Homo sapiens: one gene and its partners. The protein of the gene in region 6 purifies or fractionates together with the protein of the main gene of each other region. This does not show direct contact. Each region holds a gene or a part of one and is shown on either strand. Other genes may lie near its edges.

What was found.
Region 1: the proteins of USP18 (region 6) and RSF1 purify together in Homo sapiens (affinity purification with mass spectrometry, with the first as the bait; one study listed by BioGRID). This does not show direct contact.
Region 2: the proteins of USP18 (region 6) and ZEB1 purify together in Homo sapiens (affinity purification with western blotting; one study listed by BioGRID). This does not show direct contact.
Region 3: the proteins of USP18 (region 6) and SAMHD1 purify together in Homo sapiens (affinity purification with western blotting; one study listed by BioGRID). This does not show direct contact.
Region 4: the proteins of USP18 (region 6) and CBFB purify together in Homo sapiens (affinity purification with mass spectrometry, with the first as the bait; one study listed by BioGRID). This does not show direct contact.
Region 5: the proteins of USP18 (region 6) and KDM3B purify together in Homo sapiens (affinity purification with mass spectrometry; one large-scale study listed by BioGRID and IntAct). This does not show direct contact.

Annotation. Positions count from the first base shown.
Region 1 is NC_000011.10:77,670,299-77,675,199, forward strand, and holds part of RSF1 (remodeling and spacing factor 1), read right to left. Parts: coding exon 4,738-4,901; intron 1,933-4,737; coding exon 1,744-1,932; intron 1-1,743. UniProt on the Homo sapiens protein: Regulatory subunit of the ATP-dependent RSF-1 and RSF-5 ISWI chromatin-remodeling complexes, which form ordered nucleosome arrays on chromatin and facilitate access to DNA during DNA-templated processes such as DNA replication, transcription, and repair.
Region 2 is NC_000010.11:31,521,222-31,526,122, reverse strand, and holds part of ZEB1 (zinc finger E-box-binding homeobox 1), read right to left. Parts: coding exon 4,187-4,901; intron 2,191-4,186; coding exon 2,010-2,190; intron 1-2,009. UniProt on the Homo sapiens protein: Acts as a transcriptional repressor. Inhibits interleukin-2 (IL-2) gene expression. Enhances or represses the promoter activity of the ATP1A1 gene depending on the quantity of cDNA and on the cell type.
Region 3 is NC_000020.11:36,892,285-36,897,185, forward strand, and holds part of SAMHD1 (deoxynucleoside triphosphate triphosphohydrolase SAMHD1), read right to left. Parts: intron 1,952-4,901; exon of another isoform or gene 1,646-1,951; coding exon of another isoform or gene 1,622-1,645; exon of another isoform or gene 783-1,621; coding exon 648-782; 3' UTR 1-647.
Region 4 is NC_000016.10:67,063,281-67,068,181, forward strand, and holds part of CBFB (core-binding factor subunit beta), read left to right. Parts: intron 1-3,401; coding exon 3,402-3,518; intron 3,519-4,901. UniProt on the Homo sapiens protein: Forms the heterodimeric complex core-binding factor (CBF) with RUNX family proteins (RUNX1, RUNX2, and RUNX3).
Region 5 is NC_000005.10:138,421,319-138,426,219, reverse strand, and holds part of KDM3B (lysine-specific demethylase 3B), read right to left. Parts: intron 2,146-4,901; coding exon 1,879-2,145; intron 810-1,878; coding exon 638-809; intron 1-637. UniProt on the Homo sapiens protein: Histone demethylase that specifically demethylates 'Lys-9' of histone H3, thereby playing a central role in histone code. Demethylation of Lys residue generates formaldehyde and succinate. May have tumor suppressor activity.
Region 6 is NC_000022.11:18,148,067-18,153,649, forward strand, and holds the start of USP18 (ubl carboxyl-terminal hydrolase 18), read left to right. Parts: upstream 1-2,103; 5' UTR 2,104-2,156; intron 2,157-5,583. UniProt on the Homo sapiens protein: Interferon-induced ISG15-specific protease that plays a crucial role for maintaining a proper balance of ISG15-conjugated proteins in cells. Regulates protein ISGylation by efficiently cleaving ISG15 conjugates linked via isopeptide bonds.

The DNA of each region.
Region 1 (4,901 bases), on a different chromosome or scaffold from region 6:
CTTCATATTTATTGTTCCATCTGCCTGTATCATTCTTCTTTTAGATAAGTGCATGACTCACACACAACATTTCTTTCAGGTCTTCACTCAAATGTTTTCTTAGTGAGGATTTCCTTAGTATATTATCTGAAATTCAACTACTTTCCCAACCCCCTTTTCTCCTTTATTTTTTTCCAAAGCACTCATTTCTAATATATCATATATTCTACTTATCTATCTTGTTTATTGTCACCTTCTTCCCAACTAAAATAAGAGTTTCATAAGAGCTATTTTGTTTGCTGTTATATTCCAGTGCTTGGAATAGGGCCTAGCTTAATAAATATTCATATTTAATGGCTTAACTAATGCAATTTATGTTTGTTTCTGTGACACATGAAGGTAAGTACACATTCGAAAAAGATGTTCACTTCCCTTCTTTAGCATCCCACATCCAAACATTTTTTTTCCCTTTCTCTTTTGTCTTGGGCTCAAACTTAAATTCATGTTTAATCTATGAAAGCAAAACAATCTTCAAAACAGGCCATAAAGCCGGGCGCGGTGGCTCACGCCTGTAATCCCAGCACTTTGGGAGGCCAAGGTGGGCGGATAACCTGAGGTCAGGAGTTCGAGACTAGCTTGGCCAACATGGTGAAACCCCATCTCTACTAAAAATACAAAAATTAGCCAGGCTTGGTGGCACATGCCTAAAATCCTAGCTATTGGGAGGCTGAGCCAGGAGAATCGTTTGAACTTGGGAGGCGGAGGTTGCAGTGAGCCAAGATCACACCACTGCACTCCAGCCTGGGTGACAGAGTAAGACTCTGTCACCAAAAAAAAAAAAAAAAAAAAAAAAAAAAAAAAATATATATATATATATATATATATATATATATATATATATTTATATGTATATATGTGTGTATATATATATACACTATATATATATAATTTAAGTAAAACAAAAAAGACTAAATGGATGTAAGAAATTCATATTTTAGAGCTTGTCTTGTACTACTGGTAGGGGGCACAGTTATAGCTATTAGGAAATAATGATTTCGGTTTCCAACTGAAATCATAGTCAAGGTGAAAGAGACAGTAGGCACTTTTATTTGAAACCTTTTAGCTATTAAGGACATAAGAGGTTATTTCAAAATGAGGGCCATGAATAAGGGAGTAAGAAAAAGAAGTAGAATAATCTTGATCAGATCACAATTTTCTGAGACTTTTCTAGTTTCAATGAAAATTTAAATTACAATGGAGATCTTAAAAATTAGCCTCTTATCGAGTATCTTTTATTTAAACTATGGTAGGCACAAGATTATAGGTTTTATCTCAAAGATACTACTGGTTATATGGATTTTTTTTTTTTTTTTTTGAGACACAGTCTTGCTCTGTCACCCAGGGTGGAGTGCAGTGGCACAACCTTGGCTCACTGCAATCTCCGCCTCCCAGGTTCAAGCAATTCTCCTGCCTCAACCTCCTGAGTAGCTAAGATTACAGGCGCGTATCACCACACAGGCTAATTTTTTTATTTTTAGTAGAGACAAGGTCTCACCATGTTGGACAGGCTGGTCTTGAACTCCTGGCCTCAAGTGATCTGCATGCCCTGGCCTCCCAAACTGCCGGGATTACAGGCGTGAGCCACCATGCCTGGCCTGGTTATATGAGTTTCAAAGAATGGTACAGAATCACAATCCTGAGTTCACTTTATAATGTCTATTTTGCCCTGTCCAAACTTCTATATATAGGAGACCTATGCCTTACCTTCACTCTCTGAGCTGGAAAGTCTTCGCTTGTGTACTCGCCTTATTTCTTTACCACGTCGCAAACTCTTCTGGGAACCGTCACTTTCTGAGTCTTCTTTGTAGTTAATTTGTCTTTTCTGATTTCTCCTTGACCGCCTTCGCCGAGTTTCTACAAAATCATCACTAAAATCATCACTGAAGTCACTTTCTATTTTAAAAAAAGGAAGAACAAAGTACAAAATTTAAGTCTATTTAGAAATGTAGCTTAGGTTATAAAAATGAAAAGCTACCAAGCAGAGTTCAGTCATAAATATTTTTAAGTGAACAGTAACTTTTATGAGTCTCATTTTATTTGAGAGAGTATCTCACTATCACACAGGCTGGAGTGCAGTGGCATGAACATGACTCACTACAGCCTCAACCTCCTGGGCTCAAGAGATCCTTTGGCCTCAGCTGCCCCAGTAGCTAAAGCTAGGATCACAGGCATATGCACTACCACTCCTGGCTACCTACCAAAGTGTTGAGATTACCACATGCCTGGCCTTTAAGTCTCCCTTAAAAAAAAAAAAAATGACTCAATCTGTGCAGGTTTTTAATGCCAAACCTCACAATATATACTCTTAGCGGTGAATCCTCAAGATTAGAAAATGTTTTATCCTTTTTAGTTTGTTTGTTTTTGAGACAGAGTCTCACTATGTCGCCCAGGCTGGAGTGCAGTGGCATGATCTTGGCTCACTGCAAACTCCACTTCCCGGGTTCAAGCAATTCCCCTGCCTCAGCCTTCCGAGTAGCTGGGACTACAGGTACCCGCCACCACATCTGGCTAATTTTTGTATTTTTAGTAGAGATGGGGTTTCGCCATGTTGGCCAGGCTGGTCTTGAATTCCTGGCCTCAAGTGATCCGCCTGCCTCGGCCTCCCAAAGTGCTGGGATTACAGGTGTGAGCCACCACACCCAGCCTAAATGTTTTATACTTTTTTAGAAATAGTCCTTACTGCAGTCGACCTACAGCTACCTGGTCAGGTACACAGCTGCCATGACTGCTCTTCTTGGTAGACGGCTACCACAAATCCGCCTCCTGATAATATGCTGTTCTACCTGTCACTATAGTCATAATGTATTGCAGAGGTTATGCCCTCTAACCAAAGAAAACTCATGAATCTGTTCCACATAAATACAGAACTCAAGATATATTTTTGACTCTTCTCCATAAAGAATACAAATCTGCTAAATAAAGCACACAGACCTAGTTAAACTTGCAAAGCACTGCTAAATAGCATTGTTCCTGTCATCTCTGATCAATAAGCCAGAGTGAGGCTGTGGCATTATGTCACAGCTGTTTTTCAGAATGTTAAATTCCACCGAAGTACGACATTCAAGCTTGTTATTCTTTTGTGGATTTCAAACATTTCAAAATAGCTAGCCAATAGGTTGAAGTGGTTCTCATTGGCCAAATTTGGGACAAATGGAGCCTAAATAGTGATGGGAATGTAGTATATCCACTGATCAGAATAAGAATCCACGAGTTTACACTGTCATAAATAAACAAACATATGGAGGAGAAGGGAAATGTTCTTCCTTACAGAACAACAATAAATAAATATAACAGAAATGACAGAGTTAGAATTATCCACAGGAACTAAAACTAGCAGGTGAAATATAAGGAAAAGGATATTTAAATAGTCTCAAATTCCCACAAATTACTTATTAATTATAAGGAAAAATAATAAAGAGACTCAGAAGATGCAACATTCTCTGTGCTATTCCCACTATAAATGCATAATCTGAATCTTATCACAAGGAAACAAAAGAAATCAAAACTGGGAAACATCTACAAAACAACTAGTATGTACTCTTTAAAAATATCAAGATGAGACAAAATTTGAGGATTATTCCAGATTAATGGAGACTAAAGAGATGTGAATAAACGCATAGCCCTGGAATGGATCCTGGGTTAGGAAAAGAAAAAAAAGATATAAAGAATAATATGGAGATACTTGTTAAAAATTTGAATGTGTACTGTTAATTAGGTAATAGCATTATATCAATGTTAAAATATCTGAATTTGGTAATTGCATTGTGGTGATGTAAGAAAATGTCCTTGTCCTTAGGAAATAATCACTGATAAAGGGGCATGATATTATCATCACTTATTTAGATGGTTTAGGAAAAAAGATAAATAAAACCAAAAAAAACCCACAAGGATGGCCAGAGTCTGATACTCATATCTATGGTTCTTCTCTAATAAGATGACACCTATCAATTTGCCAATTACATAAAGCATTCATTTCTTGTAGCGGTTGAGCCTCTATTTACTCACTTAATAGGGATAAGCATACTCTATAACAACATCAACTACTGTTAATCTGTAAAAACTACTCAACACTGACTGTGGTCTAAATGAGAGTTAACTTGTATTCTTCTCTCTCCAACAGCTGGGCATCTGAGGGAAATGTTCACAGTTTATTGAGAATGATTTCCAAGAAACCCTATGAAGATGAAGGTTTAGGAGTGGAAACATTTGACAACCAAGGAGTCATCACAATCCTACTAGGCATCTGATATGAAGTTAACGTATCAATCAGTATGTATTTTCTCAGATGTGCTTTCTATGAGAAAAATTTAGTCAGAAATAAGTCTTAAGAACAGAATTTTAAGAACTCTTAACTCCAGAAGTCATAAGAATTTGTTGAGCTGGCCAGCGTGCTGGCTCACGCCTGTAATCCCAGCACTTTGGGAGGCTGAGGTGGGCAGATCACCTGAGGTCGGGAGTTTGAGACCAGCCTGGCCAACATGGAGAAACTCCCTCTCTACTAAAAATACAAAATTAGCCAGGCATGGTGGCACATGCCTGTAATCCCAGCTACTTGGGAGGCTGAGGTAGGAGAATCGCTTGAACCCGGGACACAGAGGTTGCAGTGAGCCGAGATGGTGCCATTGCACTCCAGCATGAGCAACAAGAAAAACAAAAAATAATTTATTGAGCTACCATATGGTTACAGATTATTTTTACCAGAGTCTCTACTATTCTCCTCAGATTCCTCCTCTTCATCATCATCGGAATATTTTTTCTTTGGGGTCTTTCTTCGCAAACGCCTGCTCTGCCTCATTGGCCGAGAGGGGTGTCGCCTCAGTCTACGGCTACAAAAGTCAGTGTCACTGTCATCATTAGATGGC
Region 2 (4,901 bases), on a different chromosome or scaffold from region 6:
TGCCCCCTAAGAAACAAGTTTTGGCCCGTGAGGGCAATATTGCCCCTCCTGAGAACGCATGGGCTACAGGAGTGTTGCTGCCCAGACATGAAAAGGACTGGCAACAACTGATCATAGTCAGGATCGATAATGTCCAATTTCAGAGCTATCAAGCAGTTAACACTAACAAATGCAGAAATGATTTTTAATTTTAGAAATAGTGTAGTTTTTCATATATATTTTTCACTTTGATATTTGCTAATATTTAACTTTGCCTGAAGAGGAAGGGGATTTTCTAACTCTTCTTAGATCTCTGAAAACCAGAGGACTGAGTTACAAGGGGCTGATTTTGAGAGGTGTGACTTTCTCTTATGTAACCAGTTTTTAGCTCCAAGAACCTTCCAAGTGTCACTGTATGAATCCACAGATTGAAGAAGGAAAAACAATTCTATCTTTTCTCACAAGAGTAAAAAATACACTGAAACAGTTAAGAATATGAAAGATAAATATGGATACTGTAGTCATAATGGCTGGTAGTGGGGGCAGGGAAGAGCAGGTAGGGGATTAAAGAGCTCAGGATAAACCCAGCCCCTTCTACAGCAACCCATGTTAGAGAGAGACACAGGAGTGTGCTGGAGCCAGTTTGTACTGGCTGGAGAGAGTCTACTGCTAAATTTTCAGGAATTCTGCAAGCTGACATCACATTCAAGCTCGAAATCCACCATGATGGGAGTATTTATGCCACAAAAAGCTGCAAACACTACAAATCAGGGCTTCCCCACCCTTCAGAGAACCAGGTGTTAAAATTTATCAGTACTTCACTGATGGAAGGAATGAAATAGGCCAGGAGTTGGCAACTATTTTCTGTAAAGGGTAGTGAGTATTAAAGGCTTTGCAGGCCAAATGGTCTCTGTAGTAGCTTCTCAATCCTGCCATTGTAGAACAGCATGAAAGCTGACATAGACAAAATGTAAATGAATAGGCGATGCTGTCTTCCAACTAATTTTATTTACGGATGCTGATATTTGACTTTCACATAATTTTCATCAGTCATAAATATTCTTTTCATCTTTTCCAATCATTTAAAAATGTAAAAACAAAATCAAAAACTACCATTCTTACCTCATAGAAAAACATGCGTATGCTCACATTTGGCCTGTGAGCTATAGTTTGCCATCCCTGAGTCAACCTAAGGAGGCATATTTTGTGGCAGAATTACAGGATCTCAGAATTACAGGATCTTAGAATCTTCTAGTCCAACCTCTTAGGCAGAACTTCTTACTTAAAACAAAAGATCTTGACTTGCCAGGACAGCTTGCCGCATGCTTATGAAGCAGCTTTTTCTTTTATGAAGCCAGATCCTGTCTCCCTATGACTTTAGCCCACTGGTCTCATATTTTTTATTAATGGGTACTATGTACTATGTTTTTATTAATATAGCATAAGCTTGCATTAAATGAATGCGGACAGAATAAATGCTGTGTCAGCTTAAAGGAAATAAGTCATGAAAAAAACAAAAAAACAGATGAAGCAAAAAACCAAAAGAAAGGCACAGACCTTAAGTACTAGGTAGAAGTGGGCAAACAGGTGAAAATGGCCAGATCAGATAAGTAAAAAATAAGAAAATTAATTCTGGGTCAAGCGTGGTGGCTCATGCCTGTAATACCAGCACTTTGGGAGGCCGAGGTGGGTAGATGGCTCGAGCTCATTAGTTCAAGACCAGCCTGGGCAACATGGCAAAACCCGTCTATATCAAAATTGGCCAGGTGTGGTGGTATGTGCCTATAGTCCCAGCTACTCAGGAGGCTGAGATGAAAGGATGGCTTGAGCCCGGGAGGCGGAGGTTGCAGTGAGCCGAGATTGAGATTGCGTGCCACTGCACTCCAGCCTGGGTGACTAGAGCCAGACCTTGTCTCAAAACAAAATAAAAAAAAAAAAAAAGAAAGAAAATTCTAAAACTTTAGTTTTTAATTTTGCATCTTCCAGTATATCATATCATGGACACTTTATGTTTGTGTTCACTGACATACCTGTGTGTTCATATTTATGTCTCAATAATGAACTACTCTTTTGGAATATCTTGTCACACAAATCACAAGCATACATTCCATTTTCTGTCTTCCGCATTTTCTTTTTGGGCGGTGTAGAATCAGAGTCATTCTGATCCTCTACATTTGATACTCCTTCTGAGCTAGTATCTTGTCTTTCATCCTAGAGGGAGAAAGGTGTGAGAAAATGTAATTTAACATTAAAAGATAAACAAGAGATATACATAAAAGCATGAGATAAAGAACTACTTTAACTTATACTTTTATACTTTCAAGGACTTGACCAAAGCAAGCACACTGATCTTCACTGCACATGTGCCCCAAGGGTGGGGCCAGATCACAGGTGGAGATGACAAAGACAAGAGTGAGGTTGGGGATAACACAGTCAAAACCATAGCAAAGACATATACTCAACTGGTACTGGAAAGAAAGCAAGGACACCGAAAAGAAAGCATGTAAAATATATAGTAACAGAGTTTACCTAGTTTCATGTGAATCATTACTTTACGAGAAATTTGCAGAAGGTTTTAACTTATTAGTTTGCTAATTAATCGCTCATTACTAACTGCATCTTTTGCCTTCATTTTTCTCATTCTGGGTTTCACTAAGCAAAAGCTAACATTCTATTTTTAAAACCTGGTCTTTCAATTGTATCCTCCAGAACTTCAGGGTTCTTTAACCTCCACGGTCTCCTTGAAAAGAGAGAGGTGTGCTCTACCACTTGTCTAAGGAGCAAGATGGAAAAACAATGCAGGAGGGTCTATCTTTTTAACAGAAATAATTGCTAATCAAAATGAACCTTTAGAAACTCCAGGCAGTCTCATGGAGATAATTTTGGGCAGCACGTTCTTATGTAAGCCAAATAACCCTGCAGGGAGCCTGTTGTGGAACTGGGTCCCCTAAGATCTTCCTACCTTATCTAGAGTGTTCCACGCCATTGCCTCAAACCCACACATTTTCTAAAAGTTGAAGGTTTTTCACAACATTTCTTATGGCTCTATGAGGCAAGAGAGGTGCAGCCATTTGTCCCTGTCATTTGTGAGTGGCCCTGGTGCTGAAGTAACTTGATTCTACTTTCACTGCTACTTGATCTAGTCACGTGACACGTGAGTCTATGAAATGCTAAGGATGGCTCTTTTTCTATTCAAAGGCATGCAAAGTGTTCTGTACACTAAAAATTTAGAGGAATTCAATGATCACGTAAGAACTTTTTTTCAAGAGTTATCACAATTACAGGAAACCCAATCAATAGCAATATTTAAGGGAAAACAAAAGCAGCAAATACAAGTTTGAGCAGGATATTGAAATTATTATACTTATAGAAAATATTTGCATAAAATATCAAATTTGTCTCTAGTATTCATTTGATTCCATCAGAAATTGATGGAAAAAATGGGAAAACATCAACATCAGTGACATGGAAAAAGTCTGGACAATGAGGCATACAATAGCTCTATCCAAAACTATTGTGGATTTTGGGGTAAGACCAGTTCAAGGGTTCTTCCTGGACAGAATAAACACTGTTGTGGTAAACACTGTGATAGTTAAGGAGGAAAATGCATATGTATTTTTAGGTTCACAGCCACACTTCCTCATATACATTATGACTGAACACTGTTTATGCACAGTTCATAAAATGATCAGTAAATTCACAAGATGCGTTCTTTGTATACTTCATTCCTGTTTATTTAATTAAAACCTTTTATAAACAGATGTATTAGTATATAAAAGTGATAGATAAGTTTGCCTGGTATGAACCTGTGAATGGGAACATATTTTCATTAATTAATGACCATAATCAAGGCAGAAACTATTACTAATTTTAGGAATTTAGCTATAAAAACAGAAACCCAATTAGCGAGTATTTCAATTTTGTTTTTTGATTTCTAACTTCAAACAGGTTTTTAGCTGGGACTTAAAAATCATCTTTCAGTAGAATAGCATTTCAAACTTTAAGCTGGTAACAATACCCTGGATTAGCAAACAACCAACTGAAGACATCATGCCAGAAAAGTTAAAGCAAACATTGATCCTTTTAAAAATGACAGTTTGTAATAATCTAGTTGGCTCTACGGGACTGATATTTATTAGACAAAGTTAATTGAAATTAGTCAAATAGCATATTACTAGCCAGGTTCAGGATGGAGGTTATTTTTTACCTGATTTCCATTTGGCTGGATCACTTTCAAGGGTGGTTCTTGGACTGCAGGGCTGACCGTAGTTGAGTAGGTGTATGCCACCTGGGGAATCAGAATCGTTTGCTTATTGGCAGCTAGCGCTCTTAAGCATGGAACACTGTTCTGGTCAGCAATGGCCACGATTGTGGGTAACTGGGCAGTGACTGTAGGTATAGCGATATTTATGGGGTTGGCACTTGGTGGGATTACATTTACAACTGGTTCTGAGTCTGTAACACAACTGTCCTTTTGTGGCTCCTTTTTTGCGCAAGACAAGTTCAAGGGTTCTTCCTGGACAGAATAAACACTGTTCTGGTAAACACTAGTGATAGTTGACCTTTCTAATAATTCTCCCTGTTGCTTTGGTAGTGAAAGATCAAGAGGTTCTACTTGTGGCTCTTCTTGTGCACCCTCAGCTGTGTACAAGTAACCCTGTGTATTTCTGGATGAGGAAAGGTTTAGAGGTGATGGGGATGGTGTACTACTTCTGGAACCATTGGTGGTTGATCCCACTGGTAAAACTGGGGAGTTAGTCATCTTCAAAGGACTTTGTAGATTTACTGTGCTGTCCTGGGGTTCATTTGCATTTGCAGATTGAGGCTGATCATTGTTCTTGGCAGGGATATTTACTTTGCCTGGTTCAGGAGAAGATGGTTCAGAAGACTGCACTGAAATCTGTCCAGCTTGCATCTTTTCA
Region 3 (4,901 bases), on a different chromosome or scaffold from region 6:
CTAGAAGGGTGAGGGGAGGTGTCTTTCACTTATGCTTAGGTCACTCTTAGAGGACTATCCTCAAACTTGAGGTGACAGGGAACTCTTCACGGGGGCAGGATTTGATGTTTTGTTTTTAGCCATGTTTGTCAATGACAATGTCAATTTCTAGTTCCAATTTGTACCCTTGTCTCATTTCTACATTAAAAACAAAAAACAATCATCTGTCATAAAAGTTCAGAGTAAGCTGGGTGTGGTGGCACATGACTTTAGTCCCAGCTACTTGGGGGGCTGAGGCAGGAGGGTCGCTTGAGCCCAGGAAAGTTCGAGTCCAAGCTGGGCAACAGAGCAAAACCTTGTCTCTTAAAAAAGAAAAAAAATAGAGTTCAGAATAGATAAAAGAGTTGTTATTCTAAGAAAATAGACTACTGAAGGAGAAAGGCTTTAATAATATTAAAAATAGGCAAGGTAATGCTTTTCATAGTATAGTAAGATTTGCCTAATACCATCTTATTTCTTTGATTAAAAGTTACTTAGCTTCAGCATGCGTGTACATTCAAAATACAAAATTAAAGCATGAGTTGTCATTAATTTGCAGAATTCTATGATTGAAGCCTCTAAATGAATTGTGCAGGAGAGGGAGTTTGTAAACAACTGACTACAGACATTCACATTGGGTCATCTTTAAAAAGCTGGACTCTGCTTTTGGATGCTTCTCGGAGGCGAGTTGGATTTTGGACTGAAGTACTGTCGTTCCATTCCTTTTTTTGAGGTGTTATGAGTGGGGCTATAACATCGCCATCCTATTAGGAAGAGAGAGAAAAACAGGCAATAGAGAAAAGCCAGTTTCCATCATCTTATTTCTGAGTGAAAGTCTCAAGTGCGCACATCCTCATCTTGCATATAGATTGCTTCTAGCTGTCCTCAATCCAGGGAAACTCCAAATTACATATGCCCTGTGCTTGGGGCAAATTAGAAACACTACAGTCTTACGCAGGAAGAGCCTTCATGAAAACAGCCACTGGCCTCTGCAGAGATGACTGGGAGCAGCATACCACTGCCCACCTCTATGGCCTCCTTCACACACCTTCACGGAGCACAAACTCTGTCCTGTTTTCCCAGGAGAAAGACGGGATGCACTGAACCCCTAGCTTCTCTCTCGCCTGGTCCCCTCTGCAATAAAAGGCCCAGGTCTACAAGATGGCAAAGAAGGGGAGGAAGAACAGTATGTACCTGCAGAATTTAAATTTTTCTCTGCATCAAAGCTCTAACGTTGGTCCCATCAGCATAGGCTCCAGCCAAAGAAGCTCCTCCACCCAAAATAAGGGAGAGATCCAAAGGGAGGCGATACAATGACGTGAAACCATAGAGGTAAGAAGCAAGGCCTCCTAATACTTGACTCTATGCTAAACTGTTCTGAACTTGTGGGTAGATCTTCTTTGGTTACAAGATGATGCACGATCTTGGAGAGCCTCTGTTGTACCAGGAATACAATGCTGGTGGGAGGATTCGTGCTCCTCATCTGCTTATTTGCTCTCAGATCCATTCTTCACTCTTCCTCTCCCTACTCTGTCTCACAGGAGCTACTCCGGTAAATTACATTTCTCAGCTCCCATGCCTGTTGGTTTCCAGTTAGATTTGGTCAGTGGGAGGCTCTGGTGGGAGACTGGAGGTGAGAAGAGGGCAGAGAAGTCAGGTTTTTTCTCTCCCTACCTCCTCTGGCACGAGCGGCAGTGGCAGTGACTATTCTGTGGTTCTAGCTTTTGCAGGTGGCCCCAGCTCCTGGACTCCCACCTGCTCCCTTGGTCTCTCCTATCCTAGAGGTGGTAGCAGCTTCCTGCTGTTGAATCACTGTCCTCTATGCTCATTTAGCTCTGCCAAAACTTTTGTATCTCACCCCCATGTTAAATTTTTTCTGTTGAACTACACTGGATCTGACTTGATAGAACTATTAAAAATAGTTTTTAAAAAATGTGTTATTATTTTTTTTTGAGATGGAATTTTGCTCTGTCACCCATGCTGGAGTGCAGTGGCACAATTTTAGCTCACTGCAACCTCCACCTCCAGGGTTCAAGCGATTCTCCCGCCTCAGCCTCCCAAGTAGCTGGGATTATAGGTGTGCATCACCATGGCTAATTTTTGTATTTTTAGTAGAGATGGGGTTTCACTATGTTGGCCAGGATGGTCTCGAACTCCTGACCTCAGTAAAGGCAATCATTTAGGCCAGGCGTGGTGGTTCATGCCTGTAATCCCAACACTTTGGGAGGCCAAAGCAGGTGGATCACTTGAGGTCGGGAGTTCAAGACCAGCCTGGGCAACATGGTGAGACCCCGTCTTTACTAAAAATACAAAAATTAGCCGGGCATGGTGGCACGTGCCTGTAGTCCCAGCTACTCAGGAGGCGGAGGCAGGAGAATCACTTCAACCCGGGAGGTGGAGGTTGCAGTGAGCTGAAACTGTGCCACTGCACTCCAGCCTGGGCAACAGAGCAAGACTCTGTCTCAAAAAAAAGTCATCCTATTGTCATGATACTTGTACTTAAAGGCCTATCTCAAAATCAACAGTATTTATTTGTCTTTAAACTCATCTCTATTTCTACCCAGCTTGCTTTCTTTCTTTCTTTTTTTGAGACAGCATCTTGCTCTATCAACCAGGCTGGAGTGTAGTGGTGTGATCATAGCTCATTGCAGCCTCAGACTCCTAGGCTCAAGCAATCCTCCCACCTCAACCTCCCAAAGTGCTAGGATTACAGATATGAGCCACCATGCCTAGCATATAGCCAACTTTTTAATTTCTACTCATTCTACTTTCAGTTCTAGTGAATTTTATAAATGTAAACAAATACGTCACTTTCCTGCTTAAAACCCTTCAGTGTCAATGCTCCCTACTGCTCTTGGCTGACAGGACTTTGATAAAGCCCCAGACACCTCCACACTCTATGCTCCTTCCTGAAATGCATCATGTTCTTTCTCATCTTCCGACCTAACCCTGTGGTGTCTATGCCTCAACCCCTCCCCTACCACCACCTCCTGCTGCCAGCCCTTAACCCAGACAACTCCTCACTCAACCTTCAGGTCTCAGTTTATAAGCCCTTCTTTAAATAAGCTTTTCCTGACCAACCAAGACCAGCTAAATCCTCCTTGTTTTTCCTCTTCTAAGACTGTGTACTCACCCTATACCCAAAGTACTTACCATGCTCCTATAATTATTAACTTATGGAGAAAAATTAATAATAATTATTATTATCCCCAACTAGATTATTATCCCCAACCTGAATGGGATCCATGGGTTATTAGGAACTGTCTATCTTAGGTACTGTTCCAGGTACCTAACACAGGGCATGGCAAAATACTCACTCCGTGAGTGAATGTACCAAATTTATAGTAGTTATCACGACACAGCCAAACTTTAATAGCCTCTCTTGACTCTCTATTTCCAGACTCTCCAAGTTCCAGTCTATCTGCAGCTAGAGTTTTCAGTGATTTAGTTTCAGTGATTTAGTTTCACAGTACCTAGGACAGACATACAGTTGGCCCTCTGCATCCATGGGCAGATTCAACCAACTGTAGATAGAAAATATGAAGGGGGAAAAATGGATGGCTGTGTCTATACTAAGCATGTACAGAATTTCTTCTTGTCATGATTCCCTAAACAATACAGTATTAACAACTATTTACATAGATTTACATTGTAGTAGGTTTTATAAGTAATCTAGAGATATTTAAAGTATAAAGGAGGATATGTATAGGTCATATGCAAACACTATACCATTTTATATAAGGGACTTGAGCATCTGTGGATTTTTCTTTTCTTTTCTTTTCTTTTTGAGACAGAGTCTCGCTCTGTCACCCAGGCTGGAGTGCAGTCGCCGGCTAATTTTTTGTATTTTTAGTAGAGACGGGGTTTCACAGTATTAGCCAGGATAGTCTTGATCTCCTGACCTCGTGATCCGCCCACCTCGGCCTCCCAAAAGTGCTGGGATTACAGGCATGAGCCACCGCGCCCAGCCTATCCATGGATTTTTCTATCTGTGGGGTCTGTGGGGGTCCTGGAACTAGTTCCCCACAGACACCAAGGGACAATTCTACTCTTATTCCCACGGGTGTCACTCTAGTTGGAGATGACACACATTCAGGTAGATCATACAGTGCATGGTAATTCTTGAATATGCTCAATGATTCCCTCCCCACTGTACAGAGAAAAAAATCTCTTAGCCAATTATCCAAGGTTCTCAATAATCTAGTCCACTCTTCCCATTTAACCTCTCCACACTTAACAGTAAGAACTTTCTGGCTGGGCATGGTGGCTCACACCTGTAATCCCAGCACTTTGGGGGGCCGAGGTGGGCGGATCACGAGGTCAGGAGATAGAGACCATCCTGGCCAACATAATGAAACCCCATCTCTACTAAAATACAAAAATTTAGCCAGGCATTGTGGCACATGCCTGTAATCCCAGCTACTCAGGAGGCTGAGGCAGGGGAATCGCTTGAACCTGGGAGGCAGAGGTTGCAGTGAGCCAAGATCGTGCCACTGCACTCTAACCTGGGTGACAAAGCAAGACTCCATCTCAAAAAAATGAATGAATTAATTAATTAAAAAAAAAAAGAATTTTCTACCCTGACAGGTCTCCTCATGGTCCCCTAAACAGTCTCAGCTCATTCCAGCTTCATGCCTTTGTGCTCCTCCCACTGCCAAATATACCCTGCATTCTCCCTGCTACTCATCCAAACACAACCCTGCCTTCTAGATCTAGCAGATCCTGCCCCTTCACCAGGCTTCTCCCAGAGATCTCCCAACTCTCTGAATCCTCAGAGATCTTACCTGGATCATGCCTTGTGGCACTTGATAAAGCACCGACATCCTGAGCTACGCTTTCATGTCTCACCCTATCCTTTGTTCCCTTTAGCACCTGACACACAG
Region 4 (4,901 bases), on a different chromosome or scaffold from region 6:
GTCCAAATAGGAGGAGAAATGGAACCTTTTGTATTTTGGTTATTTTCCAATATAAGTAGAAATTGGTTCATTGTGGTTTATTGCAGCCCTTAGCAGAAATGATTGGGTTCAGTAGTGAAGGGGAATGACACAAATATGTACCAGGAAAGCATAAATTTTTATTTATTTTTTATTTTTTTGAGACAGAGTCTTGCTCAGTCTACCAGGCTAGAGTGCAGTGGTGCGACCTCAGCTCACTGCAACCTCTGCCTCCCAGGTTCAAGCGATTATCCTGCATCAGCCTCCCAAGGAGCTGAGACTACAGGCACACACACCCACGCCCAGTTAATTTTTGTTATTTCTTGTAGAGACAGGGTTTCATCATGTTGTCCCAGCTGATCTTGAACTCATGACCTCCTGCCTTGGCCTCCTAAGGGGCTAGGATTACAGGCATGAGCTGCTGCGGCCAGCCAGAGGGTATAAATTCTATAAGTACTATTTTAAAGGTATCTCAGAGGTAATTTTTTTATCATGTTTATAATTATTGGCAGTCAGTTATTGTTATTAAACATCTCTAAAAACAAAAAGAATCCAAGAGTCTGAAGAGACTACTGAAATGAGTTTCAAAAAAAAGATGCTTCCAGCTTTTTCCTCAAAATGAGAAACTGTTTTACAGATTTTTATATAATTAAACAGGTAATAAATAATGCCAGATTTTAGCTCACAAAGCACTGGATTTCCCAAAGGAAATACATTTGGTGCAGGTAAATGAAAAGCCTCGTTAATAAATATATATTTGATAATCTGCAGGTTTGAAAACTCACTGAAGAATTCCCACTTCCTCTGCATTAAAAATACCTTGTTCAAGGCAGTAAATATTAACCTATGCTGGTTTATTCAGAAACTCATGTTAAACAAGGTAGAGAAGACCTAAAATTATGTGTTTTGTTTGTTTATTTGTTTTTGAGACAGAGTCTAGCTTTGTCACCCAGGCTGGAGTGCAGTGGCACGATCTCAGTTTACTGCAACCTCTGCCTCCTGGGTTCAAGCGATTCTCCTGTCTCAGCCTCCCAAGTACCTGGGATTACAGGCACCCGCCACCATGCCCAGCTAATTTTTGTATTTTTAGTAGAGACGGGGTTTCACTTTGTTGTCCAGGCTGGTCTCGAACTTCTGATCTTGTGATCCACCCGCCTCAGCCTCCCAAAGTGCTGGGATTACAAGCGTGAGCCACCGTGCCCAGCCCTAAAATTATGTTTTTAAAAGTAACTATTAGGTTAGTGTGGTATTAGGAGTGGGAAGATTGTAGAAACTGTAATAAATTTCTCTTATATTGTTTATCTCTATCACAATAAAATATTCACCTCAGGATGATAGAATTAACACCGTCCTTTCTGGGTGGATAGTTACTCTTGGGAACAATTGTATTTTGAGCCAATATGAGAATTAATTTGGTGATCAAAAATGATCTAAATTTGGGTATGATGTATACCTAAAGCAATTTTTATTCTAGAGTTATTTATTTACTTGAAAAAGAATGGTGCAGAAATGGGTTTTTGTTTTTTGTTGTTGTTTTTTATTGTTGTTGTTTCAGAAGAAAAGTTAATAAAAGTGTAAAACAGAAGTTTTCTTTTTTTTCTCTCTCTTTTTTTTGTTTGAGACAAGTCTCACTCTGTCACCCAGGCTGGAGTGCAGTGGCACTATCTCGGCTCACTGCAATCTCTGCCTCCCGAGTTCAAGTGATTCTCTTGCCTCAGCCTCCCGAGTAGCTGGGATTATAGCTGTGCGCTACCATGCCTGGCTAATTTTTGTTATGTTCAGTAGAGATGGGGTTTTGCCATGTTGGCCAGGCTGGTCTGAAACTCCTGACTTCAAGTGATCCGCCCAACTTGGCCTCCCAAAGTGCCGGGATTACAGGCATCAGCCACCGCGCCTAGCCAGGATGTAGGAATTTTCTCATGAAGCTGAAGGTTCACCAGATGAGAGATACTTTTGGTTTCAGGAATCTTGAAGATCTTTTTAAAATTTATTGGTACTTTTTTAAACTGCAGTGCATAAAGTATAGTGAACATATTTAATTTGTCAGTGACTTGAGATGTTACCATATCCTAGGATACTTATTTTCGATATTTCTCTAATGTGTAAGTAGATATACTTGTTGGATGTGATACAGTATGAAGCCTGGCTAATTTTGTCATCTAAAGGTATTATGTGTAAGGAATAAACACATTTCCATTTATTAAGAATTCAAGATGCTTGGTTAAGTTTATTCATTTTTTTATTTTTATTTTTTTACTTTTTAGAGGTGAGGTCTCTCTGTGTTGCCCAGGCAGGTCTTGAACTCCTGGCCTCAAATGATCCTCACACCTTGGCCTCCCAAAGTACTGGGATAACAGGCATTAGCCACTGGTGCCTAGCCTTTTTGTCTTAGTTGATTTTGTTATAGTATTTAAGAATTTCAACAGGGAGTTGAAATAAGTAGATTTTGGGTTAACTTACCAGTTTCTAGATAAATAATTGATACATGTAGTCAAACCCTGTGACCTTAAAACTTTTCTACTATATTTAAAAGACTGATTCACCTTACTGTTGCCTATTGGGAAAAGTAAAAAATAAATAAATAAAAAACTGTGAAATAGCTTGAATTAAATTTCATAAGTCCCATATAAAGGATAGCAGTGTTTTGTTCCGAATTATTTATGGACACCTAAAGATAACCACATACTACTTAATGTGATATAATAGTAAATATTATACCAGTTAAAGTTCTTTGGTTAAAAGCAGTAGAAATCAACTCTGGCTAACAAGACAAAAAAATAAAAAGAAAAAAAGATTAATTATCAGGAATCTGTGAGATAGCTTATAAAACTGAGGGGAGTATCAACAGCCTGATCCTGCATGCTCCAGGAACCCACGTTGAGGGAAGCAGTGCATGCTCTCTTCAGAGGGTGGTGGCTTCCAATTGTTTTCCATCTTTCTACCCAACATTCAAAAATCAAAGTGTCTGGCCGGGCATGGTAGCTCACGCCTGTAATCCTAGCACTTTTGGAGGCAAAGGCTGGCAGATTGCCTGAGCTCAGGAGTTCAGCACCAGCCTGGGCAACATGGTGAAACCCCATCTCTACTAAAAATACAAAAAAAAAAAAAAAAATTAGCCAGGCATGATGGTGAGCGCCTGTAATCCCAGCTACTGGGGAGTCCGAGGTGGGAGAATTGCTTGAACCCGGGAGGCAGAGGTTGCAGTGAGCTGAGATTGTGCCACTGCATTCCAGCCTGGGGAGCACAGCGAAACTCCATCTCAATCAATCAGTCAATCATAATTTTATTCATCTTTTCTACAGAGTTTATATAAGTAAGTTTAATCTTTTTATTTTCATGTGTCTGATGGTTTTCAATTATTTTCATCCTTTTCTGTGTCTTAGGTATATTTGAAGGCTCCCATGATTCTGAATGGAGTCTGTGTTATCTGGAAAGGCTGGATTGATCTCCAAAGACTGGATGGTATGGGCTGTCTGGAGTTTGATGAGGAGCGAGCCCAGGTAGGGTAACATCAGGCTTTATTGAGCATGGTCCCTTTAGTCCCTAATCTTGCCTTTGCCTGGGGACCTATTTTACCCAATTTTTAAGAGTAAGTATAGAAAGTATTGTGTTGAAGCAATATTGAGGAATCCTGAAAATGTTGATACTCAAATTCTGATCCTGATTTTGGGAAAGTTTTTTCTTCAGCAGTTCTAAATTTCATGGGTTATTCGTATCTGCTCAGTGGGTGCTTCAAAGTCCAGCAAGTAGCTCTTTAAAATATTTATTCTTGATCTTTAGAACACTATGAATAGGGAAAAAAGAAAAAACTGTTCAAAATAAAATGTAGGAGCCGTGCTTTTGGAATGCTTGAGTGAGGAGCTCAACAAGTCCTCTCCCAAGAAAGCAATGATAAAACTTGACAAAAATTGTTTAAAAAAAAAAAAAAAAAGCTGGACGTGGTGGCTCACACCTGTAATCCCAGCACTTTGGGAGGCTGAGGCAGACGGATCACCTGAGACTTGAGGTCAGGATTTCGAGACCAGCCTGGCCATCATGATGAAACCCCATCTCTGCTAAAAATATAAAAATTAGCCAGGCATGGTGGTGCACACCTGTAATCCCAGCTACTTGGGAAGTTGAGGCACGAGAATCGCTCGAACCCAGGAGGCAGAGATTGCGGTGAGCCGAGATTGCGCTACTGCACTCCAGGCTGGGCAACAGAACAAAACTCTGTCTCAAAAACAACAACAACAACGAACAACACCCATTTAAGGCCTCATGGAAGCTATTGAATCTCAGTAAGATCAGTGACAGTCTGTGTCATTTTAGTCAGGAGCTGCTCCCATTCCCCAGCTCTGTGGTCCCTCAGGTTCTTCCCTGGGCGGGCAGGGTAAGCCATGAGCACTGGTAGATCTGTTGTCCTGTCAAAGAGAGCTGACTTTATTAAAAGCAGGGCTTGGGAAAAAAAAAATCCATGCCCAGGCATATTGTTTAAAATGATAGAGGTCTCATTTGCTAACAGTCTGGCAAAGCTAGTGTTGCAGAAAGCAACAAAATGGCAGACCAGCCAGAAATTTATCAGGGAGATTCAGGGAAAGTGATAGGTAAAGTAGACCCTACTAAGATTACACTCATGTCATCCAGAAAGCTGTGTGCATGTACAAGGCTACACCTGCTCTCTTGAAGAGAACACAGAAGGTCCTTGCATGCTACTTTTCCCTGGATGAACACAAGGTAGACTGGCAAACTCCCTGATCTTTGAAAGCATTTCCCCAAGCTACACACAAGTCCAGTGGCAAAAGATGGAAGTCTGCTGACTCAAGATGTTTGGGTAAAAACTCTGACCAGTCATTGGCTGACGGCTGAACTATGCTGATCCAGGAACAACCCCCCAGAAAGCA
Region 5 (4,901 bases), on a different chromosome or scaffold from region 6:
GCTACTTTAGTGTGTGTCTTATTTTTCCATCTTACGGGGATTCTATCCCCATTCCTCAGAGTGAAAGTGCTCTGCATAGCCCATGGAATCACATGATTAAGTCCAGGCATGCTCTGGGAGTCATGTGATTGCCATGTAAGCTACACAGTTGGCACCAGGGCAGAATGTTCCCCCACCAAGTGGGTATAATTTGGATTTATTTATTTATTTATTTTTGAGACAGTCTCACTCCATCACCGAGGCTGGAGAGCAGTGGTGCCATCTTGGCTCACTGCAACCTCTGCCTCCTGGGTTCAAGTGACTGTCCTGCCTCAGCCTCCTGAGTAGCTGGGATTATAGGCACACACCACCATACCCAGCTAATTTTTGTATTTTTAGTAGAGGTGGGGTTTCGCTAAGTTGGCCAGGCTGGTCTTGAACTCCTGACCCCAAGTGATCCACACATCAGCCTCCAAAAAGACTGAAATTACAGGAGCGAGCAACCACGCCCGGCTGTCTGTTTTTAATTTTTTATTCATTTATTTTTTCAAGTCCCATTATGCCCCAGAATATAATTTATTATTCAAGGGCAGAGCTGGGCGTATAGATGCTTATTTTCCAGTCTGCTATCACTGAACTAGATATGAAAGCTACTTACTGCATATGATCTCGAAACCATCCCAGAAATCCCGAACTTTCACATCGGAAATTATAGCACAGTTCCTGCAGTTCACCAAGTCTACATCCTGGTCTCCAAATTCCTGGCTAAAGGCTTCTGGCTTCCAGAGCTCAGACTTGAGCTTTTTATGTACCCCCGAAACCAGCACTGGCTGTGGAAACAAAAATATCCCAATCAGAGCAATCTAGGAAAAACTTCCAGCTCTAGGGCTGAGACAGAATAGGAGGGTTTCCTGAGGAGGGCCTCCTCTTCTCCAGGAAGCTCTACTGTTCTTTCCTAGTTGTATAATCCATGGATTTCCACATGTCAACTAAAGTGAAAGGAAATGCTTCTACTCCATTGTTATGCTTCATTCTCACCCTGGGGAAATCACTTCTGTTGCCCTAATACCTACCATTGTTTTAAGGTGAAAGGACAAAAATCTGACAAGTCCAACTTTGAGAACACTTCCTCATATTGAAAATGACAATGCCATGAGCTCCCCTTCCTCAAGCACCTGCTAAAGTTTTTAAACTAGGGAGTGTTATCACACTATCAAAAAACTTGTGTGGCCTTAAAACATTTGCCTAGAAAAGTACTACCTACCTCCAACCCCTTCTCTGCCCCATCTTAAAATCACACTTAAGGATTTTTCTCTAAAGATATCAATGCCAGATCACCACCTAACAGAAATTTCAACTGCCTTTTTAAGAACACAGAACTATACAGCTTAGAAACAAGAGGATGCAAAGTGTGTTTTTAGTAATCTCCTTGCTTTTATTTATTTATTATTTATTTATTTTTGAGGTGGAATCTTGCTCTGTAGCCCAGGCTGGAATGTAGTGGTATGATCTTGGCTCACCGCACCCTCTGCTTCCCGGGTAAAGTGATTCTCCTGCCTCACCCTCTCAAGCAGCTGGGATTACAGGCACCCACCACCATGCCCAGCTAATTTTTTTTGTATTTTTAGTAGAGACAGGATTTCACCATGTTGGCCAAACTCCTGACCTCAGATGATGCGCCTGCCTTGGCCTCCCAAAGTGCTGAGATTACAGGCGTGAGCTATAGTGCCTGGCCATCTCCTTGCTTTTAAAAATCCAAGACAACTCGAAGTAGCAAGGCTATTACAATAACCTCACTATGTCTAAATCTCCCTGGCAAAAAGAGAGACCTGGAATTGTCCAGGTATCTGTGGTAGGCAGGCAGAGAATTGGCCCTTGGAACGACTTATTCTTGCTTACCTGACCTTGCTTCCAACACTCCCGGAAGATCTTCCAATTGTTTTTGTTGCTGGGGTCATGGAGACACAGAAGCCTCCCATCACAAAGCCAGGAGTGAGAAGTATGGGGATCTAGCACATTTAACCCCATCACCATCTCCTTCACTTCCTTCTGGGTATCAGTCAAGTTGCAGGCCCGCTTTGAAGCATCTGAGGTTTTCTTATTTTCTACCACTGAGGCAATGATGTGGTCAAGAAAGTTGGGTAGGCTGGCCTTGCTCTTCACTCCCTGCCAGACACAAATCCACCAGGTAAGCTTGACTGAGGCACCATGAGAACGGCATTCAAAAAACTGTCTCACAATTGTATTCACAAGGAGTTCTGACCTGTCTGATTAAATTCTACAAAAATTATTAAAATGTCTTTTACAACTGGAAGGGGGATAATAAGTCAACATCTTAAATTCTTTTATCCTTCATATTTTACCTTAACATTTAGGAAAGAAAAGTATAGAAAGATCCCTTTTGCCTCGAGAGATCTGAGACCTAAGAAATACCTTTGGCATCAGCCATTCAGTATACAAAGCACACATGCATGTAGACTGTAGGGATCATCAAATGCTGTAACTGAGTGTAAAAAGGTCACTCAGTTTGAGGGTTCTAAATTTTTCCTAACCAGCATGCCCAAGGGATACAATACTTCAATTAAGTAACTGAAGTGACTTATCAAGGCAATGGTTTTCTACCAGGGAGTACCTCAATGAAGGGTGTAGCAGAGTGTCCAAGAGGAAGTACATTCTGAAAGCAGTCTCCTACTCTCCAATTTTTTCCTCACTACCATCCCACTGAGAATCACTCACCTGTTTCAGCTGATGGGAAAGCTCAGGCCCAGAGATGAAAGTGACATACCTAAGGTCACAGAACTGAAGGTAGGGAAGCTTTTATAAACTGGATAATCCTATGCTTACAGTATTACTAATCCCTATCTCTATAAAGTATGTATAATTATGTAACATCATGGGAGAATTAGAAAAAGAACTGGCAGTATGATGAACAAGTATACATAAAACGGTACCCAAAGTAATTGTTTTGTTTGCTTTTTAAAATTTACTTATCCAGGCTGGGCACGGTGGCTCATGCCTGTTAATCCCAGCACTTTGGGAGGCCAAGGCAGGTGGATTACCTGAGGTCAGGAGTTCGAGACCAGCCTGGCCAACATGGTGGCCAACCCTGTCTCTACTAAAAATACAAAAATTATCCCAGTGTGGTGGCACGTGCCTGTAGTCCCAGCTACTTGCTCGGGAGGCTAAGGCAGGAGATTTGCTTGAACCTGGGAAGTGGAGGCTGCAGTGAGCTGAGATCGTGCCACTGCACTCCAGCTTGGGCAACAGAGTGAGACTGTCTCAAAAAAAAAAGTTACTTATCCAAAAGAGAAACAAATAACCCAAATTGTATAGAGGGCTCAGTCACCCACAGTTCATCACGTTTCAGCCATTAGTCATAAAACCCAAGAAGAAATGTATTTATGTATTCGCTTGAAATGATTTGCAGGACATATAAACTAAAAATCAGAATAGCAAGGTGTAGAACATTTAGGGGAAAAACATACATATGATAATATCTCGAGAAACACTGGAGACTTCTAGAAAGGGAAACAGGTGGTTGGGAGGCAAGGGTGCAAAGGAAACTTTTCAGTCGAAACCTTTTTTATTTTATTTATTTTTTTGAGATGGATCTCCCTCTGTCACCCAGGCTGGAGTGCGGTGGTGCGATCTTGGCTCACTGCAACTTCTGCCTCCCAGGTTCAGGCGATTCTCCTGCCTCAACCTCCCGAGTAGCTGGGATTATAAGCATGTGCCATCATGCCTGGCTAATTTTTGTAGTTTTTTAGAAAGAGTCAGGATTTTGCTACGTTGGTCAGGTTAGTCTCGAACTCCTGACCTCAAGTGATCTGTCCGCCTCAGCCTCCCAAAGTGCTGGGATTACAGGTGTGAGCCACTGTGCCCAGCCTCTTTTCTATCTTTTAGATATTGTACCTTATGAATTCATTCATTCAATAAATGCTTACTAAACATGACTGGATCAAACACCATGGCACTAGGGATATATTATAGAACAGTCAAAAATGCCTTTAGGAGAGGCAAGAAACAGAAAATCAAACATGTAATAGGTCAGATGGTAATGAGTGCTGTGAAAAAAACAAAGCAGGGAAAATCGGTATGTGCAGAACTGACAGTGTGATGGAATTTTAAAAAGGGTGATGTATGAAGAAAGGGTTACTGAAGGTTTAGGTGAGGGAGCTGATGATGAAGCAAGTGAGGTAGTTACATGGGAAAGAAATTCTAGGTGGAGGAAATAACAAGTGCAAAGGCCCTGAAGAGGGAGCATGCCAGGCCATGTTCAAAGAACAGCAAGAAGGTGGGTGTGGCTGGAACGGAGTGAACAGAACAGAGAGTGGTAGTTGAAGACAGGGAGGTGAGAGCAAGATGAACAGATAGGGCTATGGCCTCATAGTCCAGGTGCGTGACTCTACTCATCTGTAAGCACTACAAGGACTCTGCTCATCTTACGAGAGAAAAAGGAAGCCCTTGAAGGATTTCAGGCAGAGGTTAAGATATGATCTGACTTATATTTTATTATTTTTCTCCTTTTCTTTTATTTTTCTTTATTTCTTAATAAAAAGCCTCCCATGGGATGACATATTTTAAAAGAACCTCTCTAGCTACTGTGTTGAAAATACACTGTAGACTGTAAAGGGCAGAAACAAGGGGACCTGTAAGGAATTTATTGCAAAAACTTAGGCAAGATGTTGGCTCAGAACAGAGGAAGCAACAGAGCTGATGAAAAATGAGTGGATTCTGAATATAGTTTGAAGATCAAATTTGAAAGGATTTGCTAACAAATTAGATATGAAAGGTAAGACAGGCGAGTCCCAAATGATTCTAAGATTTCTGGTGCAAGCAATCACAAGGGCAGAGATGCCACCAACCAGTAGGGGAAAACTAAGGAGAAGCAAGCTTATGGTCAGAAGATCAGGAGTTCAGGC
Region 6 (5,583 bases):
GCTCCAGTCCAGCACCCTGCTTGGGCCACTGTGGAACATACTACACAAACGCCCACTTTGCTTGACACACCTGATGGCCTTAGCACGGAATTGTTCAGGAGGGTACCATGAAGGACGGAAGGAAGAGCCCCATAGAAGTGTAATGGATCCTTACATTATATAGTCCAGCCTCCAACCCAAGGTTCACCCTTGTCCATTCTGCACTGGGGCAGCAACACCAATTACTTTGCTCCACCGACCTACCAAGATTCAGATAGAATCATTGGATTGACTATTAATAGTTTTCTGCTGATAGTTGCTGCAAGCAACTGCAGCTTGCTCCTTAGCCTTCTACTGACTTGCTGTATTTAGCATATTTTATCAAATTTTGCAACCTCCTCTCCTCATTGCCCTCACTTGAGTTTTTGAGGTTCCTGTTTGTGGACAAGACTTACCAGATGTATGAAGCTGGTTATATAACTGATTGGTCAGCAAATATAATGAGGACGGACCCTGCGCCCACCACCGTGTACCTGTGTAAACACCATACTGCGCAAAGTCCACCAGCCTTCCAGGGAGAACATGCTGCACTGTGGGCGACACTGCCTCCGTTCCAGCAGCAATGTAAGCGGAGTCTGGGCTGACGATGGACGTGTGGATAGCCTGTATGTGTATATCTGTGCTCATGCTTCTAACACACATCCACCCTATTATGGACACGTTTATACATCTTCATGCCATGGTATTTTGTACCTTACTGCAGACCCTACCAACGCTTCAGTGAGGTTCTGGCAGCTTTGGGTTTTTGGAGGCTATTTGTCTGTTGCTGCGGGGACGGCTTTCAGAAAGAATGATCGCTTTGGGGGAATTGTACCCTGCTTTCCTGCGCAAATTCCAGCGGCTGGAGTTTGAGGCCCCTAGCAGATAACCCTTCTGCCCCTACCCCCATGAGTCTACATACAAGAAATACATCTCTAAAGAGGTAATAAGCCTTTCCGGTGTGCATGTTACAGATCTCTTAACCTTATATATACACAGATGGTCCATCACTTACCGTGGTTTCACTTACGATGTTTCGACTTCATGATGGGTTCACTGGGACTTGACCCCATTTTTTTTTTTTTTTTTTAGACGGAGTCTTGCTCTTGTCGATCTCTGCTCACTGCAACCTCCGCTTCTTGGGTTCAAGTTATTCTCCTGCCTCAGCCTCTTAAGTAGCTGGGATTAAGCGCCACCACGCCGAGCTAATTTTTGTACTTTTAGTAGAGATGGGGTTTCACTATGTTGGTCAGGCTGGTCTCGAACTCCTGACCTCAGGTGATCCGCCTGCCTCAGCATCCCAAAGTGCTGGGATTACAGGTGTGAGCCACCGCGCCCCCTGACCCCTTCTTAAGTGGAGAAATATCTGTATCTGCATGCCCACAGGGGAGCTCCTAATTACACCATGTGCCGCATCCAAGCCACAGGCCGGTGATGTGAAGACACCCGATCCAAGAAATACAATAGCATTAAGAAAGAAAAAATGCTGCCATGGATACTACCAAACGCCAAATGACTCTAACACGTAGGCTAATTGCAAGGACCTTAAAATCGCAAATAAAAAGGCGCCTGTAGGTCGGGCGCGGTGGCCCACACCTGTAATCCCAGCACTTTAGGAGGCGGGCGGATCACCTGAGACCAGCCTGGCCAGCATGGCGGAACCCCATCGCTACTAAAATACAAAAATTAGCCAGGAGTGGTGGCGCATGCCTGTAATCCCAGCTACTCCGGAGCCTGAGGCAGGAGAATCGCTTGAACCCAGGAGGCGGAGTTTGCAGTGAACCGAGACAGCGCAACCGCACTCCAGCCTGGACGACAGAATGAGACTCCGTCTCAAAAAAAAAAAAAAAAAAAAAAAGCGAGGGCTGGAAGTCTGGAGCAGGTGCGCGGCTGCAACGGCAGCCGCGGGAAGCTCGGGCCGGCAGGGTTTCCCCGCACGCTGGCGCCCAGCTCCCGGCGCGGAGGCCGCTGTAAGTTTCGCTTTCCATTCAGTGGAAAACGAAAGCTGGGCGGGGTGCCACGAGCGCGGGGCCAGACCAAGGCGGGCCCGGAGCGGAACTTCGGTCCCAGCTCGGTCCCCGGCTCAGTCCCGACGTGGAACTCAGCAGCGGAGGCTGGACGCTTGCATGGCGCTTGAGGCAAGTTCGGGGCTCATTTTGGAAGTTTTCTTTCTAGCACAGACATCCAACTCTGCTCCTATGCCAGTCAGATAATTAAGGAATTAAGTAATAATTGTGCTCTGCAAATTATGATAGTGATCTGTATTTACTACGTGCATATATTTTGGGCCAGTGAATTTTTTTCTAAGCTAATATAGTTATTTGGACTTTTGACATGACTTTGTGTTTAATTAAAACAAAAAAAGAAATTGCAGAAGTGTTGTAAGCTTGTAAAAAAATTCAAACAATGCAGACAAATGTGTCTCGCAGTCTTCCACTCAGTATCATTTTTGTTTGTACCTTATCAGAAATGTTTCTATGTACAAGTCTTTAAAATCATTTCGAACTTGCTTTGTCCACTGAGTATATTATGGACATCTTTTCATGGCAGGACATATAGATGTGTTAATGGCATTAAAAATAAAACAAAAAACTGATTCGGCCGGGTACGGTGGCTCACGCCTGTAATCCCAGCACTTTGGGAGATCGAGGAGGGAGGATCACCTGAGGTCAGGAGTTACAGACATGGAGAAACCCCGTCTCTACTAAAAATACAAAATTAGCCTGGCGTGGTGGCGCATGCCTGTAATCCCAGCTACTCGGGAGGCTGAGGCAGGAGAATCGCTTGAACCCGGGAGCGGAGGTTGCGGTGAGCCGAGATCGCACCGTTGCACTCCAGCCTGGGCGACAGAGCGAAACTGTCTCAAACAAACAAACAAAAAAACCTGATACATGGTATGGGAAGTACATTGTTTAAACAATGCATGGAGATTTAGGTTGTTTCCAGTTTTTACTGGCACAGATACGGCAATGAATATAATTTTATGTATACATTCATACAAATATATCGGTGGAAAATTCCTAGAAGTGGAATGGCTGGGTCAGTGGGCATTCATATTGAGAAATTGGAAGGATGTTGTCAAACTCTGCAAATCAGAGTATTTTAGTCTTAACCTCTCTTCTTCACACCCTTTTCCTTGGAAGAAAGCTAAATTTAGACTTTTAAACACAAAACTCCATTTTGAGACCCCTGAAAATCTGGGTTCAAAGTGTTTGAAAATTAAAGCAGAGGCTTTAATTTGTACTTATTTAGGTATAATTTGTACTTTAAAGTTGTTCCAGAAAACAAGGCAAATACTGAAAAGCATTTCATCTGAAGTTTCTTTCTGGTATTGAACAGAGTTGGATGGAGAGTGAATGCAGGTTACCGATGTGTTCGCAGGAACAAAACGGGAGGGAGAGTAACACAGGTGCACGGCTTCATATTGATTTATCAAAGAACTTGCTTTTGGACTGTTAAAAAATGTGTTGCACAGTTCTGACACTTTTACACAATGATGAGCTTACAAAGGGGAAAATGCTTAACATAAACATAGTTTCAAAGAAGGTAAGTCCTAGTTTTTCCACGAGCTGTTTTTTTTTTTGAGAGAGAGTAGTCCCAAAATTTCCCTATTATGTGGTTTTTCATCCAAAGTGTTGTAATCCGTGTGTTCTAACCCGCATATTACGATTACTCAAGAAATGCAAAATAGGCCGGGCGCGGTGGCTCACGCCTGTAATCCCAGCAATTTGGGAGGCCGAGGCAGGTGGATCACGAGGTCAGGAGATCAAGACCATCCTAGCTAACACGGTGCAAACCCATCTACTAAAAATAAAAAATATTAGCTGGGCGTGGCGGCAGGCGCCTGTAGTCCCAACTACTCGGGAGGCTGAGGCAGGAGAATGGCGTGAACCTGGGAGGCGGAGCTTGCAGTGAGCCAAGATCCGGCCACTGCACTCCAGCCTGGGCGACAGAGGGAGACTCCGTCTCAAAAATAAAAATAAAAATAAAAAAAGAAAAAAGAAATGCAAAATAATGTGAACACGTCATCGAGACTGCGGTCTACAATTGTGGTTGCCATGATGGGGTGGGTCGGAAGACACCGAGGCTGCTTGAATCATGTTCCTGGCAGGTTAATTTTGTTCCTTTTAGGGCATCTAAATGTTGGAGTTGGCTTTCCTGGCAGAGAGTCCAGTTGTGAGTGGAGTATTGGGTGGAGGCCCCACCCTCCCCAGGTTTTCTGCAGCTTGTTCCTGGCTCTTCTGGGGCTTCTCTGAGGACCCCGATTGGTCCTGGGGCTTCTTTAGTGGTGGGCCTGGGCCAGTTCCTTCCGTTGCTCACCTCTCCCCGAAGCTTAAGGATAACATTTCGGGAAGATCATGAGAGAACGTGAACCAAAAAAAAAAAAAAAAATTCAGGTAGGGTGGGAGCTAAGTTAGTTTAGTATTTGGGATTTTTGTTTTGTTTTGTTTGAGACAGAGTCTCAAACAAAGACCCCGCGCCTGGCCTGGGGGTCTTTTTTTGAGTCAGCAGTTGAGTTTGAAAATCCCCTTCCTTGGAATCCGCCCAGGCTGTTTTCTCTGGTGGATGCTTATTGCCCCTGCTAACTTCAGCTGCGGTCTCTCTGCTCGCCTTGCCCTCCCCATCCTCCTTAGACCTTTTAAGCTTCACTTTCCTTTCCTTGCTGCCCCGCCTCCCTGTCTCCCCAGTGTGATCTACCCTGAAAGGCTGCTGTATTTTGTTTCCCTTTGGGACCGAGCCTGCTCAAATGATCTGCTCCATGAGGTTTTACTGCTATATCCTACTGAAGTATCTGGGAGGTCTTGGCGGAGAAGAGGACAACATCTTGGAAAATGCAGCCTGGAACCTCTCTGCTCTCTTTCATCAGCTTTCCCTCAATGATGAGCTCAAAATCCTCTTTCTTGCTGATGGAATTGTCTGCTGTCATCATTTCAGTTGAGTCCTCCTAGGCTGGGCCTTGTAAGAAGAACAACTGTTTATAACTATTGAAAGTCAATATTTACTAAGAAAAAGAGGTTGTTGTTATCTGAGCCATCCAACATGAATTTAAGAATATATTCCAGGCTGGGCGCGGTGGCTCATGCCTGTAATCCCAGCACTTTGGGAGGCCGAGATGGGTGGATCACCTGAGGTCAGGAGTTCAAGACCAGCCTGGCCAACATGGTGAAACCCCGTCTCTACTAAAAATACAAAAATTAGCCATGCGTGGTGGCACATGCCTGTAGTTCCAACTATTTGGGACACTAAGGCAGGGGAAGTGCTTGAACTCGGGAGGCAGAGGTTGCAGTGAGCTGAGATTGTACCACTGCACTCCAGCCTGGGTAAAAAGAGTGAAATTCCATCTCAAAAAAAAAAAAGGAGACAGGGTCTTGCCCTGTTGCCCAGGCTGGAGTGCCGTGGCACGATCATAACTCACTGTGGCCTCAAATTCCTGGGCTCAACTGATTCTCCTGCCTCAGTCTCCCAAGTAGCTGGGACCACAAGTACATGCCACCATGCTAGGCTAATTTTATTTTTATTTTTAGAAAATAAAATATTTTTTATTTTATTTAGGCAACATGCTAT